2 separate regions of the Homo sapiens genome follow, and region 1 is linked to region 2. A link means that fine-mapping ties the variant in region 2 to the expression of a gene that starts in the linked region. Tissue or cell type: whole blood. Region 2 holds a variant in brackets; the other region holds the start of a gene. All regions are shown on one strand. Distances are from middle to middle.

The links. PIP is the estimated chance that this variant, and not a neighbour inherited with it, causes the effect.
Region 1: ZNF16 starts here. The variant in region 2 is fine-mapped to the expression of ZNF16 in whole blood (INTERVAL, PIP above 0.99).

The regions. Positions count from the first base shown.
Region 1 is chr8:144,947,564-144,955,454 of GRCh38, forward strand. It overlaps ZNF16 (zinc finger protein 16), which reads right to left and starts at 3,317. Exons shown (of 3, transcript NM_006958.3): 1 at 3,234-3,317. RefSeq lists a silencer at 2,827-3,136 and an enhancer at 3,377-3,446.
Region 2 is chr8:145,030,777-145,041,673 of GRCh38, forward strand. It overlaps the pseudogene LOC124902043. Among named protein-coding and RNA genes, the nearest start is that of C8orf33, 16 kb to the right of the region's middle. The variant T/A (reference allele first, on the strand shown) is at 5,604.

The DNA of each region.
Region 1 (7,891 bases), 85 kb before region 2:
CCTACCAAATCCTAGTGGTCAGTTCTATCTGAGTTGCACCATCCTGGCAGCACCCACAGCAGGTGTTCCCATCTTTACTTGCACCAGCTACTCCCTCCTAGCCTCTCATTCCCCATTTCATGTTGGCACCCCAGTGTGCACTTCTGCACTGCCACCAACTTCCTTGGTGATTATGTCCAGTCTTGAGGCATCAACACCCTTGTTAAGATTCACAAACTTGGGCTCATCTCCAGTCCTAACTACTCCCTGTGAGCAGGAGAGAGGACACTCCCACGTGGCGGCATGACGGGCTCCTCACATGTTACTGATTCCCCCACCCCTCACTGTGTAAATGCACCATACCCTGCCCGGGTGCCCACTGGGAGCACTGACATACCTCAGCCCTTCACTCACATTGTACTGACATTGACTCTTCTGTCCTTCATGAGCACCAGCTGAGAATGAGGGTGTGGTCAAGGGGATCTGCAAAGGGGATGTGAAGAAAGGTGGCAGAAGGATGGTGCAGGGAGTCAACGTGATGGTACGTGTCACCCATAGGCCATGTGGGGAAGAAAGAAGGGCTGGGTGGTGCTCCTGGACTCAGATCACCATCAAGGAGAAGGCAAGGAGATATGAACAGAGCTCACAGGGATGGTTACTATGGACCAATGATAAGGGGCCTTGGCTGCCAGATGAAGGTGAAACACTGGCCACATTTCTGTGTCAGGAGAGACAAAACTAATATCTCAAGATTAACTTGGCAGGGTGCTCAGAGGAATGGTGGGAGATGAGATTCAAAGCAGGTACAGCACTAAGGTGCCTACCACGTGGCAGCAGAAATGGAGGAGACATGGGCGATGGGGGTGACAAGGCCCTCTGTGACTGCATCTGCCTGCCCTTACAGTGCAGATGCCCAGTTTCCTCGAGGGAAACCTCTCCCCATCCAAGTGGTGATGTAATAATCTGCAATATTTATTTAGTTCATTTTATTTAAAAATACTTTAAATTCTCATTGTTTCTGAATAGGGGCATAGTCACCTCAAAATTTAAAAGGTAAAAAGGATTTATGGTGAAAAATTCCCCAAACATCCACACAGTTTCCCTTGTTTCTAGTGTACCGTTCCAGATTAATCTAGGTTTACACAGCAAATATATAAACATATGTTTGCCTTTTAATGATAAATTACACCCAACTATGCTATGGCTTCACACCTTATTTTTCTCACTTCATTATGTGTGGGATCTTGCTTACCAGGACACAGAATAAATGCCCCCTCTCACCCAGGTCCATATCCTAATCCCTGGAACTTGTGCTTATGTTACACTACATACCAAAAAGGACTTTGCAAAGGGAATTAAGGTTATGGACGTGAATTACCCTGGTGGACCCAATCTAATCAAATGAGCCCTTAAAAGCCTGAGAAAGATCTGAGGGCCACATGGAAGGACCTCGGAGAGCTAAGGATCACTCAGGCTGGCAGCCAGCACTTCTGAGGACCAACCTCAAGAAAAACAGATTCGGCCAACAGCCTGAACAAGCTTGGAAGTGGAGTCTCCTGGCTAGAGGCTAAGCCTGCTCTTTAGGAGTCACACAACTGGAAGAGCCAGCCACCACCCTCCCATAGCAAGCAGCCACAGGATGGGCCCTGGCCGATCCCTCAGCACCTTCCCCCTTGGGGAAGAACTGGCCCAAACTCTCCTCCCTTCCCAGAGTACCTCCTCCACACGCAGAGCGACTCCACTACTGACTGGGCCTCCCAGGCAGGACATCTGAGGCTGAGCGAAACCCCCTTTCTCCCCCAGCTCTGCTCAGTGCATCTCTGACTTCTCATGGAACACCAGGAACCACGAACCCACCCTTGTCTCCCATGCGCTGGGAACCACCCCATCGCACTGCTGCCCCATGTAGGGAAAAGAAAGAAAGATCAGACTGTTACTGTGTCTGTGTAGAAAAGGAAGACATAAGAAATTCCATTTTGACCTGTACCTTGAACAATTGCTTTGCTGAGATGCTGTTAATTTGTAACTTTGCCCCAGCCACTTTGCCACAACTTTGAGCTCACAAAAACATGTGTTGTATGGAATCAAGGTTTAAGGGATCTAGGGCTGTGCAGGATGTGCCTTGTTAACAAAATGTTTACAAGCAGATGCTTGGTAAAAGTCATCGCCATTCTCCAGTCTCAATAAACCAGGGGCACAATGCTCTGCGATAAGCCACAGGGACTTCTGCCTTGGAAAGCCGGGTATTGTCCAAGATTTGTCCCCATGTGATAGTCTGAAATATGGCCTCATGGGATGAGAAAGACCTGACCGTCCCCCAGCCCAACGCCCGTAAAGGGTCTGTGTTGAGGTGGATTGGTAAAAGAGAAAAGCCTCTTGCAGTTGAGATAGAGGAAGGCCACTCTCTCCTGCCTGCCCCTGGGAACTGAATGTCTCGGTATAAAACCCGATTGTACATTTGTTCAATTCTGAGACAGGAGAAAAACTGCCCTATGGTGAGAGGTGAGACATGTTGGCAGCAATGCTGCCTTGTTATTCTTTACTCCACTGAGATGTTTGGGTGGAGAGAAACAAATCTGGCCTACGTGCCCATCCAGGCATAGTACCTCCCCTTAAACTTAATTATGGCACAGATTCTTTTGCTCACATGCTTTTTTTTGCTGACCTTCTCCCTATTATCACCCTGCTCTCCTACTGCATTCCTCTTGCTGAGATAATGAAAATAATAATCAATAAAAACTAAGAGAACTCAGAGACCGGTGCCGGTGCAGGTCCTTAGTGTGCCGAGTGCCGGTCTCCTGGGCCCACTGTTGTTTCTCTACACTTTGTCTTATTTCTTTTCTCAGTCTCTCGTCCCACCTGATGAGATATCCCACAGGTGTGGAAGGGCAGGCCACCCCTTCACCCCGTCGCTCCGCCCGAGCTCGAATGGTGGCACCGACAGGCGGGAACGCCACCAGCCTGTGGGCGGAGTCCTGGCTCGGCCCCTCGCGGCGACCTTACCCCGGGGTCTCCCCGGAGACCCCCTACCGGAGGCAGCCCCCAGAGGCTCTGACCTCCAGCCCAGGCCGAGCTGCCCCCGCCCCGCCCCCCCCGCGCTCCCACAACCCCCCGCGCGGCTCCGCCCCCGCCCGGGGTCCCCAGCTCGCTGCCCGCCCCGTCTGAGCCCTGAGAGGCCCCTGGGCCCCCCAACCACGGGGGCATCAGGGACAACCAGACGCAGGGTCCCAGGCGTGGAGCTTCGCGGAACTAACCTCAACGGGTCGCGCTTGGAAAGGAGGCAGCACCGTGGCACGAAGACGTCTCAGCCAACGCCGGCTGACCCCCGGAAGTCCCGCCCCGAATTCCGGCCCGCCGCTCGTTCTATCTGGGGCAGCGTAGCCTCTCTAGATGGCGGGAGGCCGGGGCGACTCTGTGGTTCAGCCCCAGACCTGGTCCCACTAGCCCTGAGGCCAGAGACCCTTCTGTTCCCCTTTTTTTCAGAGTTGACCCGTGCACTGAACAAGGCGGCAACTGAAGAAAAGGGGACACTAATAGAAATGCAGAGATAATGAGATATACTCGTGTAGTGGGAGATTTTAATATACAGGCCCCCAGAATCGGAACAGACGGTAGTTTGATAAAAACCTAAGGATACGTTTTTTGGAAGAACTGAATCATTCAATCAGTAAGTGATTAGATAGATAAATGGAAGAATTCAGATTCCTTCAGTAGATAACATGTTTTCGTGAGATTGTGCATGGATCGTTTCTAATACGGAAATGAATTGTACACTTGGACATAAAGAATACAAATAAGGCTGGGTGCGGTGGCCCACGCCTGTAATTCCAGCACTTGGGAGGCCGAGGCGGGCGGATGGCTTGAGGCTAGGAGTTTGAGACCAGCCTGGGCAATATAGGGAGACTCCATCTCTACAAAAAATACAAAAGTTAGCCAGGTGTGATGGTGTGCGCCTGTAGTCCCAGCTACTCAGGAGGCTGAGGTGGGCGGATTGCTTGAGCCGGGGAATGTGCGGCTGCAGTGAGCCGGGATCACATGTTGCACTGATGAGAGAGTGAGACCCTGTCTCAAAAAAAAGAAACAAACAACAACAACCAAAAAAAACCTCACAAATATTTTGACGTTCATTTTGCAGGCAGATTAAACTATCAAAATCAGGAATACATAATAAAAAATGCATGACAAACTCTATTGGAATTTAAGAAACACTGTCTAGATAACCCCCCCCCCTTTTTTTTTTAGTTCAGGCTGAGGTGCTCTCAGTTGGAGATGAGGAACTTATTGGAAGCTGGAGTAAAGGTCACTCTTGCTATGCTTTAGCAAAGAGATTGGTGACATTTTGGCCCTACCCTAGAGATCTGTGGAACTTTGAGCTTGAGAGAGATGATTTAGGGCATCTGGCAGAAGAAATTTCTAAGCAGCAAAGCATTCAAGATGTGACATACCTTTTTCTGAAAGTGTACAGTCATATGCATTCACAAAGAGATGGCCTGAAATTGGAACTTATGTTTATTTTTTTATTTATTTTTAATTTTTTTATTTCCATAGGTTTTTAAATTTTTATTTCCATAGGTGGTGGTGTTTGGTTACATGAGTAAGTTCTTTAGTGGTGATTTGTGAGATTTTGGTGCACCCGTCACCTGGGCGGTATGCCTTGAACCCAATTTGTAGTCTTTTATCCTTCACGCCCTTCCTGCACTTTCCCCCTGAGTCCCAGTCCCCAAAGTCCATTGTATCCTTCTTATGCATTTGCATCCTCATAGCTTAGCTACCTCTCACGAGTGAGGACATACGATGTTTGGTTTTCCATTCCTGAGTTACTTCACTGAGAATAATAGTCTCCAATCCCATCCAGGTTGCTGTGAATGCCATTAATTCACTCCTTTTTATGGCTGAGTAGTATTCCATCATATATATATGTATGATGGAATACTACTCTCTATATATGTATAGATATATACATATATACACACATATATACACACACACATATATATATAAATATATATATGCTACAGTTTGTTTATCCACTCGTTGATTGATGGGCATTTGGGCTGCTTCCACATTTTTGCAGTTGTGAATTGTGCTGCCATAAACGTGCATATACAAGTATCTTTTTCGTATAATGACTTCTTTTCCTCTGGGTAGATACCCAGTAGTGGGATTGCTGGACGAAATGGTATTTCTTGGTAGTTCTACTTTTAGTTCTTTAAGGATTCTCCACACTGTTTTCCATAGTGGTTGTACTAGTTTACATTCCCACAAGCAGTGTGGAAGTATTCCCTTTTCACCACATCCACGCCAACATCTATTATTTTTTGATTTTTGATTATGGCCATTCTTGTGGGAGTAAGGTGGTATTGTTTTGTGGTTTTGATTTGCATTTCCCTGATCATTAGTGATGTTGAGCATTTTTTCATGTTTGTTGGCCATTTGTATATCTTGTTTTGAGAATTGTCTGTTCATGTCCTTAGTGCACCCCCCACTTTTTTTTTTTTTTTTTTTTGAGATGGAGTTTCACTCTTGTTGCCCAGGTTGGAGTGCAATGGTGTGATCTTGGCTCACTGCAACCTCTGCCTCCTGAGTTCAAGCAATTCTCCTGCCTCAGCCTCCTGAGTAGTTGGGATTACAGGCATGCGCCACCATGCCGGGCTAATTTTGTATTTTTAGTAGAGATGGGGTTTCTCCATGTTGATCAGGCTGGTCTCAAACTCCCAACTTCAGGTGATCCACCAGCCTCGGCCTCCCAAAGTGCTGGGATTACAGGAGTGAGCCACCACGCCCGGCTGTTAGCCCCCTTTTTGATGGGATTATTTTTTCGTGCTAATTTGTTTGAGTTCCTTGTAGATTCTGCATATTAGTCCTTTGTTGGATGTATAGATTGTGAAGATTTTCTCTCACTCTGTGGGTTGTCTGTTTACTTTGCTGACTCTTCCTTTTGCTGTGCAAAAGGTCTTTAGTTAAGTCCCACCTATTTATCTTTGTTTTTGTTGCATTTGCTTTTGGGTTCTTGGTCATGAAATCTTCGCCTAGGCCAATGTCTAGAAGGGTTTTTCTGATGTTATCTTGTAGAATTTTTATATTTTCAGGTCATAGATTTAAGTCCTTGATCCATCTTGAGTTGATTTTTATAACGTGAAAGATGAGGATCCAGGATTATTCTCCTACATGTGGCTTGCCAACTATCCCAGGGCTATTTGTTGAATAGGGTGTTCTTTCCCCACTTTATGTTTTTGTATGCTTTGTTGAAGGTTAGTCGGCTGTAAGTATTTGAGTTTATTTCTGGGTTCTCTATTCTGTTCCATTGGTCTATGTGCCTATTTTTATAGCAGTACCATGCTGTTCTGGTGACTATGGCCTTATAGTGTAGTTTGTTTCATGTGCATCCATGTGAAGAGACCACCAAACAGGTTTTGTGTGAGCATTATTTCACCTGGGTGCAGGTGGGCTGAGTCTGAAATGAGAGTCAGTGAAGGGAGATAGGGGTGGGGCCATTTTATAAGATTTGGGTAGGTAAAAGAAAATTACAGTCAAAGGGGGTTGTTCTCTGGTGGGCAGGAGTGGGGGTCACAAGGTACTCAGTGGGGGAGCTTTTGAGCCAGGATGAGCCAGGAGAAGGAATTTCACAAGACAATGTCATCAGTTAAGGCAGGAACAGGCCATTTTCACTTCTTTTGTGGTGGAATCTCATCAGTTAAGGCAGGAACCAGCCATCTGGATGTGTACGTGCAGGTCACAGGGGATATGATAGCTTAGCTTGGGCTCAGAGGCCTGACATTCTGGTCTTCTTATATTAATAAGAAAAATAAAGTGAAATAGTGGTAAAGTGTTGGGATGGTGAAAATTTTTGGGGGTGGTATAGAGAGATAATGGGTGATGTTTTTCAGGGCTGCTTTGAGCGGGATTAGGGGCAGCGTGGGAACCTAGAATGGGAGAGATTAAGCTGAAGGAAGATTTTGTGGTAAGGGATGATATTGTGGGGTTATTAGAAGAAACATTTATCATGTAGAATTATTGGTGATGGCCTGGATATGGTTTTATATGAATTGAAAAAGTAAATGGAATAAGAGAAGGAGAAAAACAGGTATAAAAGGTCTAAGAATTGGGAGGACCCAGGACATCTAATTAGAGAGTGCCTAAGGAGATTCAGCATAGTCCTGCTAGCAAAGATTATTTATTTACTTCAAGAGTTTAGAGTGGCAGTTTGGGGATAGCGCCAGGAGATATCAGCTGTGATGGCTTGCAGAAACAGTGTAAACCAGCTGTGTAAACAAGAGGAGGGCATGTATGAGTAGTTGAGAATGGTGAATAGGAGTATGACTAGATAGAAGATAGTAGGGATGACAAGTTTTTTTTGGGGCACAGTCTAAGTTGGTCTGCTGTCTGGAATGAGACCGGGGCCTAATAAAAAGGAGCATCTCTACAGGAGCTCAAATGGGCTGTACCTTGTAGCATTCTGAGGACAGGTCTGACTTCTGAGAAGGGAAAGTGGTAAAAGTGTTGTCCAGTCCTTTTTAAGTTGGTGGCTGAGCTTGGTGAGGTGTGTTTTTAAAAGACCTTTAGTCAGTTCTACTTTTCTTGAAGATGGAGGACCATAAGGGATATAAAGGTTTCACTGAATACTAAGAGCCTGAAAAACTGCTTGGCTGATTTGAGTAATAAAGGCTTGTCTGTTATCAGACTGTATAGAGGTGGGAAGGCTAAACTGAGGAATTATGTCTGACAGAAGGGAAGAAATGACTGCGGTGGCCTGCTCAGACTGTGTAGGAAAGGCCTCTACCTATCCAGTGAAACTGTCTACCTAGACTAAGAGGTATTTTAGTTATCTGACTCAGGGCATGTTGAGTAAAGCTAATTTGCCAGTCCTGGATGGGGGCAAATCCTCAAGCTTGATGTGTAGGGAAGGGAGGGG
Region 2 (10,897 bases):
AGAAGCCCTGCCCTAGGCAGGCCACTAAATGGTCTGGAAAGCTAGAGGTGCTAACCTGGGAAGATTGTATTGCAAACAGCGATGCTGTACTGCAAAATAATTCCTATGGAATCATCATTGATTTGGCCCCTAGGAGAGGCTTTGCAGTAAATTGTACTGGACAGCGTGAAGATTGTAGAGAGACTCCTTTTGCAAACGACCACCCAGATTATGCACCAAAATTATATAGAAGAATGGAAGCACATTTCCCTATTAAGTGGGAGGGGAATGGTATGGCTCCTTCAAGCCCCAAAATAATTGATCCAATTATAAGTCCAGAACATCCAGAATTGTGGAAATTAATGATGGCTCAAACCCAATTCGGATTTGGAAAGGAGAATATAAAACAGAGACCCATAGTAAAAACTTCAATTTGTTGTAGCCATGACTTCTAATCAGATGGTCCCATTGCAGAGTTGTGTTAAACCTCCTCTTATGTTGGCAGTGGGAAAAATTAATATCCTACCTGACTCTCAAACCATATCATTCCTCAACTGTCATCTTTTTACCTGCATTAATTCTACCTTTAATAAAGATAATAACATTTTACTGGTTAGGGCCTGAGAAGGAGTTTGGATACCTATTTCCCTCAATAGACCTTGGGAGTCCTCTCCCTCCATACATATTATCACTGAATTACTAAAAGGAATACTTAATAGATAAAAGAGATGCATATTTACTTTAATAGCTGTGATCATGGGCCTTATAGCTGTCACAGCTGCTGCTGCTGTTGCTGGTGTTGCTTTGCACACTTCTATTCAAACTGTGGGCTTTGTGGATAGTTGGCAGAAAAATTCTTCTAAGCTTTGGAATCCCCAAAGCCAAATAGATCAAAAATTGGCAAATCAAATTAATGATCTCCATCAAACAGTAATGTGGATGGGAGATTGGATTATGAGCTTGGAGCATAGAATTCAAATGCAACGTGATTGGAATACTTCTGATTTTTGTATTACTCCTAGCTCTTACAATGCCAGTGAACACCATTGGGAGATGATTAGATGTCACCTACAAGGAAAAGAAGATAATTTATCATTAGATATTGCTAAACTGGAAAAACATGTTTTTGAGACATCTAAGGTTCATCTCACCCTGTTGCCTGGAGATGATATTCTTGCTGGAGCTGCTGATGGCCTTTCTAATACCAATCCTTTAAAGTGGATTAAAACCATAGGTGGATCAACAATTGCAAATTTTATTTTGGTTTGTGTCTGTTTATGCTGTTTGTTTTTAGTCTACAGATGTGGATGATGCCTTGGGAGAGAAGCCAGACACCGTGAATGAGCCATGATAGCAATGGCAGTTATTAATCAAAAAAAATTAATAAAGACAAAAAAGGGGGACATGTGGGAAAGAGAGTTTCTAGGGTGCCAGTTGAGTTGGTCTCCCCTGTGTGAGACACCCATGGGAAGCCATGGGCAGCCTCTGGGGGGAAAAGTCTCCTTATTGCCTTCATGTCTTTATGCCCTGAGAGCATAACTGCTCAGCAGCATTCCACAGGTTGCTCAGGGAGATAACACTCCCTTGAAGCAGTGGAGTATAATCAAACATCTTGGCTCCTCCTGAAACCCGCAAGATCTTAAGTAGTTTAGACATACACCTCTGCTCAAGGAAATTCACAGAAACCGCCACTGCTATACATCTTATCGAATGACTCACGAGTTCTCCTTCACTGATTAATCCTTTTTCCCACCCCTTCCTCCCCCTCCCATCTGCCTTAAGAACAAAGAGCTTGTAGACCAATAAATTGGGCAGAGCCTGAGAGCTCTGGGCCATGAGCAAGCCTCCAACACTCTTGTCCCCTGGACCTGCCTTTTAAATGCTTATTCTGTCTCTTTCCAACTCCTTTGTCTCTGCTGGATTTGGGGTACCCACTGGGTGTTGTGGGGCTGGTTTCCCCAACAGTGGAAAAAAGGCTGGCCTCACTGTTTATGGGTAGTTGTGGCAGTGGCAATCTCAGTATCAGAGGCTATGAAAATAATACAAGGAAAGGATCTCACCATCTGGACTACTCATGATGTAAATGGCATAATAGGTGCCAAAGGTAGTTTATGGCTATCAGACAACTGCCTGCTTAGATACCAGCTGCTACACCTTGAGGGACTGGTGCTTCAAATATGCACATGTGCAGCCCTAAACCCTGTCACCTTTCTCCCAGAGGATGGAGGACCAGTTGAGCACTACTGCCAACAAATTATAGTCCAGACTTATGCCACTGAGAGGATCTCTTAGAAGTCCCCTTAGTTAATCCTGACCCTAACCTATATACCAATGGAAGTTCATTTGTGGAGAATTGGATATGAAGGGCAGGTTATGCCATAGTTAGTGATGTAACGGTACTTGAAAGTAAGCCTCTTCCCCCAGGGACCAGTGCCCAGTTAACAGAACTAGTGGCACTTACCCAAGCCTTAGGACTGGGAAAGGGAAAAAGAATAAATGTGTATACAGATAGCAATCATGCTTATGTAATCCTACATGCCCATGCTGCAATATGGAAAAAAAGGGAGTTCCTAACCTCTGGGGGAACCCCCATTAAATACCACAAGGAAATCTTGGAGTTATTGCACGCAGTGCAAAAACCCAAGGAGGTGGCAGTCTTACACTGCAAAGCCATCAAAAAGAGGAAGGAGAGCAGAGAACAGCAGCATAAGTGGCTGGCAGGGCACTTGACAAAGAGAAGGACAAAGAGAAGGAAAGAGAGAGAGAGGGAGAGAGAGGAAAGACAGAAAGTCAAAGAGAGAAGGAAAGAGAGAGGGATAGAGAGAGGGAAAGACAGAAAAAGAGAGAAGGAAAGAGAGAGAGGAAGAGACAAAGAGGAAGTCAGAGAGAAAGAAAGAGAGACAGAAAGTCAAAGAGAAGGAGAGGAAGAGACAGACAAAGAGGGAGTCAGAGAAAGAGAGAAAGAGACAAAGTCAAAGAGAGAAACAGAGAGACAGAAAGTCAAAGAAAGAGAGAGAGAAGTATTAAAGAAAAAACAGTGTACCCTATTCCTTTAAAAGCCAGGGCAAATTTAAAACCTATAATTGATAATTGATTTAAAACCACAATGAGATACCATCTCACACCAGTTAGAATGGCAATCATTACAAAGTCAGGAAACAACAGGTGCTGGAGAGGATGTGGAGAAATAGGAACACTTTAACACTGTTGGTGGGACTGTAAACTAGTTCAACCATTGTGGAAGTCAGTGTGGTGATTCCTCAGGGATCTAGAACTAGAAATACCATTTGACCCTGCCATCCCATTACTGGGTGTATACCCAAAGGACTATAAATCATGCTGCTATAAAGACACATGCACACGTATGTTTATTTCGGCATTATTCACAATAGCAAAGACTTGGAACCAACCCAAATGTCCAACAATGATAGACTGGATTAAGAAAATGTGGCACATATACACCATGGAATACTATGCAGCCATAAAAATGATGAGTTCACGTCCTTTGTAGGGACATGGATGAAATTGGAAATCATCATTCTCAGTAAACTGTCGCAAGGACAAAATACCAAACACCGCATGTTCTCACTCATAGATGGGAATTGAACAATGAGAACACATGGACACAGGAAGGGGAACACCACACTCTGGGGACTGTTGTGGGGTGGGGGGAGGGGGGAGGGATAGCATTAGGAGATATACCTAATGCTAAATGATGAGTTAATGGGTGCAGCACACCAGCATGGCACATGTATACATATGTAACTAACCTGCACATTGTGCAGATGTACCCTAAAACTTAAAGTATAATAAAAAATATATATATACAGAAAAAAAAAGTCTTCTCCAATACCACCTTGTTGTCAGTGTAAACAAGGGTATAGCCCGAAAGCACTGAGGCCACTGACAACCCATAGCATTCCTATCAAAAATCCTTAACCCAGCAGGTTTCCTAACAGGGGATCTAAATTAATTACCATACAAAGGTCTGAACATACCTAAGAGGAACTCCCTTCAGGACAGGATAATAGATGGTTCCTTCCAGGCGATTAAGGGAAAAAGACACAATGGGTATTCAGTAAGTGATAAGGAAACTCTTGTAGAAGCAGAGTTAGGAAAATTGCCTAATAATTGGTCTGCTCAAATGTGTGAGTTGTTTGCACTCAGCTAAACCTTAAAGTACTTACAGAATCAGGAAAGAGGATCTATACCAATTCTAAGTTAACATGGACTGAACGAGGTCTTATTAATAGCAAAGAATAATTGAAATCCCAAACTTCCAAGGTTTTCAACAAAAGTAGTTTGCTAAAAGTTAACAGTGTAATATTTATTATTCTAACTTCTTATCTTGTGGAAATCAGACCACATCAGTGCCCCTCAAAGCTCAAGTCCATCAGTGCAGGGCCATACAACTACTACCCCTACTTATAGGGTTAGAAATGGCCACTGCTACTGGAACCAGAATAGCAGGTTTATCAACTTCATTATCCTACTACCACACACTCTCAAAGGATTTCTCAGTTCGCAATAAATAACAAAATCTATCCTTACTCTATAATCCCAAATAAACTCTTTGGCAGCAGTGACTGTCCAAAACTGCTGAGGCCTAGGCCTCCTCACTGCTGAGAAAGGAGGACTTTGCACCTTCTTAGGGGAAGAGTGTTGCTTTTACACTAACCAGTCAGGGATAGTATGAGATGCCATCTGGTGTTTACAGGAAAAGGCTTCTGAAATCAGATAATGCCTCTCAAACTCTTATACCAACCTCTGGAGTTGGGTGACATGGCTTCTCCCCTTTCTAGGTCCTGTGAAAGCCATCTTGCTATTATTCACTTTTGGGCCCTGTATTTTTAACCTCCTTGCCAAATTTGTTTCCTTCAGGATTGAGGCCATCAAGCTACAGATGGACTTACAAATGGAACCCCAAATGAGTTCAACTCAAAACTTCTACCGAGGACCCCTGGATTGACCCACTGGCTCTTTGGCTGGCCTAGAGAGTTCCCTTCTGAGGACACTACCACTGGAGGGCCCCGTCTTCACCCCTATCCAGCAGGAAGTAGCTAGAGTGGTCATTGGCCAATTCCCAACAGCAGTGGGGTGTCCCGTTTAAAGGGGGGATTGAGAGGTGAAGCCAGCTTGACTTCCTGGTTTGAGTGGGGACTTGGAGAACTTTTCTGTTTTACAAGAGGTTTGTAAAATGCACCAATCAGTGCTTTGTAAAAATGCACCAATCAGCACTCTGTAGCTAGCTAGAGATTTGTAAAATAGACCAATTAGCACTCTGTAAAATGGACCAATCAGCACTCTGTAAAATGGACCAATCAGCAGGACATGGGCAGGCACAAACAAGGGAAAAAAAGCTGGCCACCCCAGCCAGCAGTGGCAACCTATGGGCTAATGGCAGCATACTCCAGGCAGCCTAGTCCTGTCCTCTTTGCTTCTTCTGCTTGGTTCCATATAATTCAGCATTTTTTTTTTGAGATGGAGTCTCACTCTGTTGCCCAGGCTGGAGTGCAGTGGTGTGATCTTGGCTCACTGCAACCTCCACCTCCCAGGCTGAAGCGATTCTCCTGCCTCAGACTCCCAAGTGGCTGGTACTGCAGGCACATGCCACCATGCCTGGC[T/A]AATTTTTGTAATTTTAGTAGAGATGGGGTTTCACCATATTGGTCAGGCTGGTCTTGAACTCCTGACCTCAGGTGATCCACCTGCCTCAGCCTCCCAAAGTGTAATTCAGCACTCTTCAATTATACATATTGAAATATGCATTCAGAAAAGTACTTAAATCATAAATATGTACAACTCAATTTTGAGTATGTGAACAAGAAAGTAACCACTATCCACATAAAAATGCAGAGCAGATTAGCACCCAAAGCCTCCTTTGCGCCCACTCCTGGCTATTACCTTCAAAATGCTACCTAATGAGAGGACTCAGAGTGCCATATAAAACTATAAAGGTGACAACTGGAACAGAAATTAAAATCTTGCTAAATATTGGAAACAACAATAAAAAGGATTGAAAGGGAAAGAAAGAGTTAATATTGCTATGGTTTGGATGTGTGTCCCCTCTGAATTTCATGTTGAAATGTGATCCCCAAAGTTGGAGGTGGGACCTAGTGGAAGGTGTTTGGGGATGGATCCCTCATGAATGGCTTGATGCCTTCCTGGAGGTAATGAATGAGTTCTCACTTTGTTACTTCATAGAGAGCTGGTTGTTTAAAAGAGGCTGGCTCCTCTCTCTTGCTCCCTTTCTTGCCATGTGACATGCCTGTTTCCTCTTAGCCTTCTTCCATGAGTAAAAGCTTCCTGAGGCCTCACCAGAAGCTGAGCAAATGCCAGCACTATACTTCCTGTGTAACCTGAAGAACCATGAGCCAAATAAACCTCTTTTCTTTGTAAATTACCCAGCTTCAGGTGTTCCTTCATAACAAAGTGTAACAGATTAACACAAATATATAATCAAAATATAATATGACAATTAAAACAAGAACAACTATCTTAACAAATGGGATTAACTCACCTCTTTTAGAAAGTATATAGATTTGAGCTGGGTGTGGTGGCTCACGTCTGTAATCCCAGCACTTGGGAGGCTGAGACGGGTGGATCACAAGGTCAGGAGTTCAAGACCAGCCTGACCAATATGGTGAAACCCTGTCTCTACTCAAAATATGAAAATTAGCCAGCCATGGTGGCATGTGCCTGTCATCCCAGATACTTGGGAGGCTGAGACAGGAGACTGGCTTGAACCCAGGAGGTGGAGGTTGTGTGAGCCGTGATCAAGCCACTGTACTCCAAGCTGGGTGATAGAGCAAGACTCTGTCTCAAAAATAAATAAATAAATAAATAAAAATAAAAAATATATCTTTTCAAATTGGAATGAATTAATGGCATTCACAGCAACCTGGATGGGACTGGAAACTATTATTCTAAGTGAAGTAACTTAGGAATGGAAAACCAAACAGTGTATGTTCTCACTCATAAGTGGAGCTAAGCTATGAGGATGCAAAGGCATAAGAATGATATGATGGACTTTGCTGACTCACAGTGAAAGGGTGGGAAGAGGGTGAGGGATAAAAGACTACAAATTGGGTTCAGTGTGTACTGCTTGGGTGATGGGTGCACGAAAATCTCACAAATCACCAGTAAAGAACTTATGTAACAAAATACCACCTGTTCCCTAAAAACCTATGGAAATAAAAAATTTAAAAAGTATATATATATATATATACATATAAAGTTTCAAATTGGATCACAAAACAAAGTCCAACTCTTAAAATACAGTGATTCTGAAAGGCTAAAAATAAAAGAATAAGCAAAGTATACCAGGGAAATCTAAACAAGAAGAAAGCATGACATTAAGATGGTAATCTTAATATCAGACAAGGTGGAATTCAGGTTAAAATGCATCAAGTAATACAAAGAAATTTACAATGATAAAGGCTATGATTCCCAATGCAAATTTAGCAGTTATGAATATTTATGCACCAAGGAGCACCGAGCTGCTCTTGTGGATTGTCACAGTAATGGCCACAATGGAGTGTGCCTCCTGGTATACATGCCCTTCTCACACCAACCGTGGACTTTAGTCAGTGTGAAATAAGCAAATGTCACAAGCAGAGAGTTGATAAGAACTGTCTAGCTGAGCCCAGTCTAAATTTTAGAATTGTGAGCAAATAAATGGTTGTTTGTAACGTGAATGCCTATAGAAGAGGAAAAAATTAATAGGATGGATGAAACTTATAAAAAATGTTAGTAAGGTAGTAGCTTTTGAAGTATTGATAAAACTCTAGATATGAGCAAGCAACTAGTGTGTGAGCTATAGGCAGGACTAGTAAGATATGTTACATGTAGATAGGAAGTTAGTATCCTGTAGGACATGCTAAAGATGGAACAAATGGAATGTATAATGCAATCAACAAGAGTATTCCTTTAGATAAAAAGAGATAGGAAGATCAAGTCATAAGGTGTGATCAGGCCACTTCTGGGCTCTGTGTTATGTCATCATTTCATCAGCTACTCATTTGTGACACCCATTATGGTCCCATTCAGGTTCCACATGTGCTCTGCCAAGAAATGCAGATAAAACTTAGGGTTTTGTTTTTGTTTTTGTTTTTTTTTAGCAAGCTAATTGGTAGACTATGCTGTAGCCAGGAGTACCTGGTCTTGCATCCCTCTGCTAGCACAAGCATGTATATTGGCTGCAGGTAACGTCTATCTGTGGGCAACCTAAAGGAATTGATCTTTCAAAAAGTCAATTTCTGGTTTCATGGATTTTCTCTGCTGGTTTCCCATTTTCAATGTCATTGATTTCTGCTCAAATTTTTATTATTGATGTTGGGAAAGGCAGTCTTGTGCATGTAGTTTTTCAGCCTCCACCCAATCATATAAGAATGGGCCTTGGGTCCAGAACACTTCCTTATGAGAGAGATAAAGAGCCCTCACAGCATGTGCTGGGCTTACTACTTTGTACAGGGACATTATTCCCTGTTATAGACTCATATGTAGTCCTCTGTTCTGCTTGAGTGCATGCATTGATGGATCTCAGGCACACCCATAGCTTTCTGTGTTTCAGACCCGATGGGAGAGGAGTTGGGGTTCTTCTACTGCAGCAGGAAGTGGGGTGTGGGGTGTGCAGCTACACTGCCCACATTGGCTGTCGATATAGTTCATATATTTGTCCCTGCCCAAATCTCATGTTGAATTGTAATCCACAGCATTGAAGATGGGGCCTGGTGGAAGGTGATTGGATCATGAGGGTTGATTTCTCATGAATGGTTTAGCATCATTCTCTCCATGCTATCCTCGCCATAGTAAGTGAGTTCTCTTGAGACCTGGCTGTTTAAAAGTCTGTGGCACTTTCCTCTCTTTTACTTGCTCCTGATTTTTCCATGTGATGTGCCTGCTCCCCACTTGCCTTCTGCCATGATTGCAAGCTTCCTGAGGCCTCCCCAGAAGCTGAGCAGATGTAGAACTATGAGCTAATTAAACCTCTGTTTTTATAAATGACCTGGTTGTAGGCATTTCTTTATAGCAATGCAAGAATGGCCTAACGCAGCTGTGATGTGAAACTGCTGTCAATGGGGGAACTGTGCATTGCAAAGGGCTGGATCCTGTGCATTCTTTCTCCTCTTGTTGTAAGAAAATGACATACCACTTGAGCCTGGTGTGTGTGCCACTTGTTTTAATGACCCAAAATCATGCATAGGCCTTCCCTCAGTGGCACTTATCTATCTTATAAACTTGGCTGCACAACCTGGTCACCCAGTGAGTGGTGAAACAATTTATTCTGCTTACTTTGATTTGATTTATTCTTTTTTCCCTAGTTTCATAAGGTGGAAGCTTACATTATTGATTGTATCTTTCTTCTAATATGAGAATTCCATGCTATAAATTTATCTCTAAGTACTGCTTTCACATCTCACAACTTTGTGAGATAAATAAGTTGTATTTTCATTTTCATTTAGTTTGAAATATTTCTAAATTTAACTTGAGAATTCTTCTTTGACCCAGCTGTTATTCAGAAGTGTGTTGTTTAATCTCCAAGTATTTTGGAGTTTTCCAGTGATCTTTCTGCCATTGATTTCCAGGTTAACTTCTTTGCCATCTGAGACCACAGATTGTATGATCATATACTTTATGTATTTTTTTCAGGCAGGGTCTCACTCTGTCCCCCAGGCTGGACTCTAGTGGTGTGACCACAGCTCACTAAAACCTCTGCCTCCTGCGTTCAAGTGATCCTCCCATCTCAGTCTCCTGAGTAACTGGAACTAAAGGCATATGCCACCACACCTGGCTAATTTTTGTATTTTTTGTAGAGATTGGGTTTCACCATGTTGCCCATGCTGGTCTTGAATTCCTGGGCTCAAGCAATCTGCCTGCCTTGGCCTCCTAAACTGCTGAGATTACAGGTGTGAGCCACCATGCCTGGCCCTATTCTTTTAAATTGATAAAGGTGTGTTTTATGGCTCAGAATGTGGTCTCTCTTGGTGATTGTTCTGTGTGTTTGAGAATAATGTATATTGTGCTATTATTGGATAAAGTATTCTATAGCTGCTGGTTAGAGCTAATTGATTGATGGTTCTGTTCAGTTTAACCATGTTCTTACTGTTTTTCTGCCTGCTGAATCTGTCATTTACTGATAGAGGGTGTTGAATTCTCCAGCTATAATAGTGGACTCATTTATTTCTCCTTGAAGTTCTATCAGTTTTTCCTTCACATTTTTTGACCCTCTGTTGTTAGGTGCAAACAGCTTAAGGATTTCTATGTCCTGTTGGAAAACTGATCCCTTTATGATCATGTAACTCCCTTCTTTATCCCTGATAATTTTTTTTCTTTCTATGAAGTCAGTTTCGTCTGAAATTATTATGAGGATTTTTTTTTTAGACAGAGCCTTGCTCTGTCACCCAGGCTGGAGTGCAGTGGCAATCATAGTAAAATTGACCCAACTGTCCATAGAACTGATGTTTACTTTTTTTTGGATAAACAAAGAAATTGACCCTCCCAGGTCGGGTGCAGTGGCTCACATCTGCATCCCAGCACTTTTGGAGGCTGAGGTGGGTGGATCACTCGAGGCCAGGAGTTGGAGACCAGCCTGGCCAAAATGACAAAACCCTGTCTCTACTAAAAATAAAAATTAGCCAGGCATGGTGGCGCATGCCTGTAATCTCAGCTACTCAGGAGACTGAGACACAACAATTGCTTGAACCCAGGAGGCACAAGTTGCAGTGAGCTGAGATCATGCCTCTGCACTCCAGCCTTGGCAAAACAGCAAGATTTTGTCTAAAAAAAAAAAAAAAAAAAAAAAGGAAGAAGAAGAAGAAGAAAAGAAATTGATCCTCCCAGTCTTAAAGTTTGAAACTTGTGTTTGTCTTATCTGAGTTCCTTCCTCAGGAAACTGACCCTTGGGCCTCCCAGATAGTAT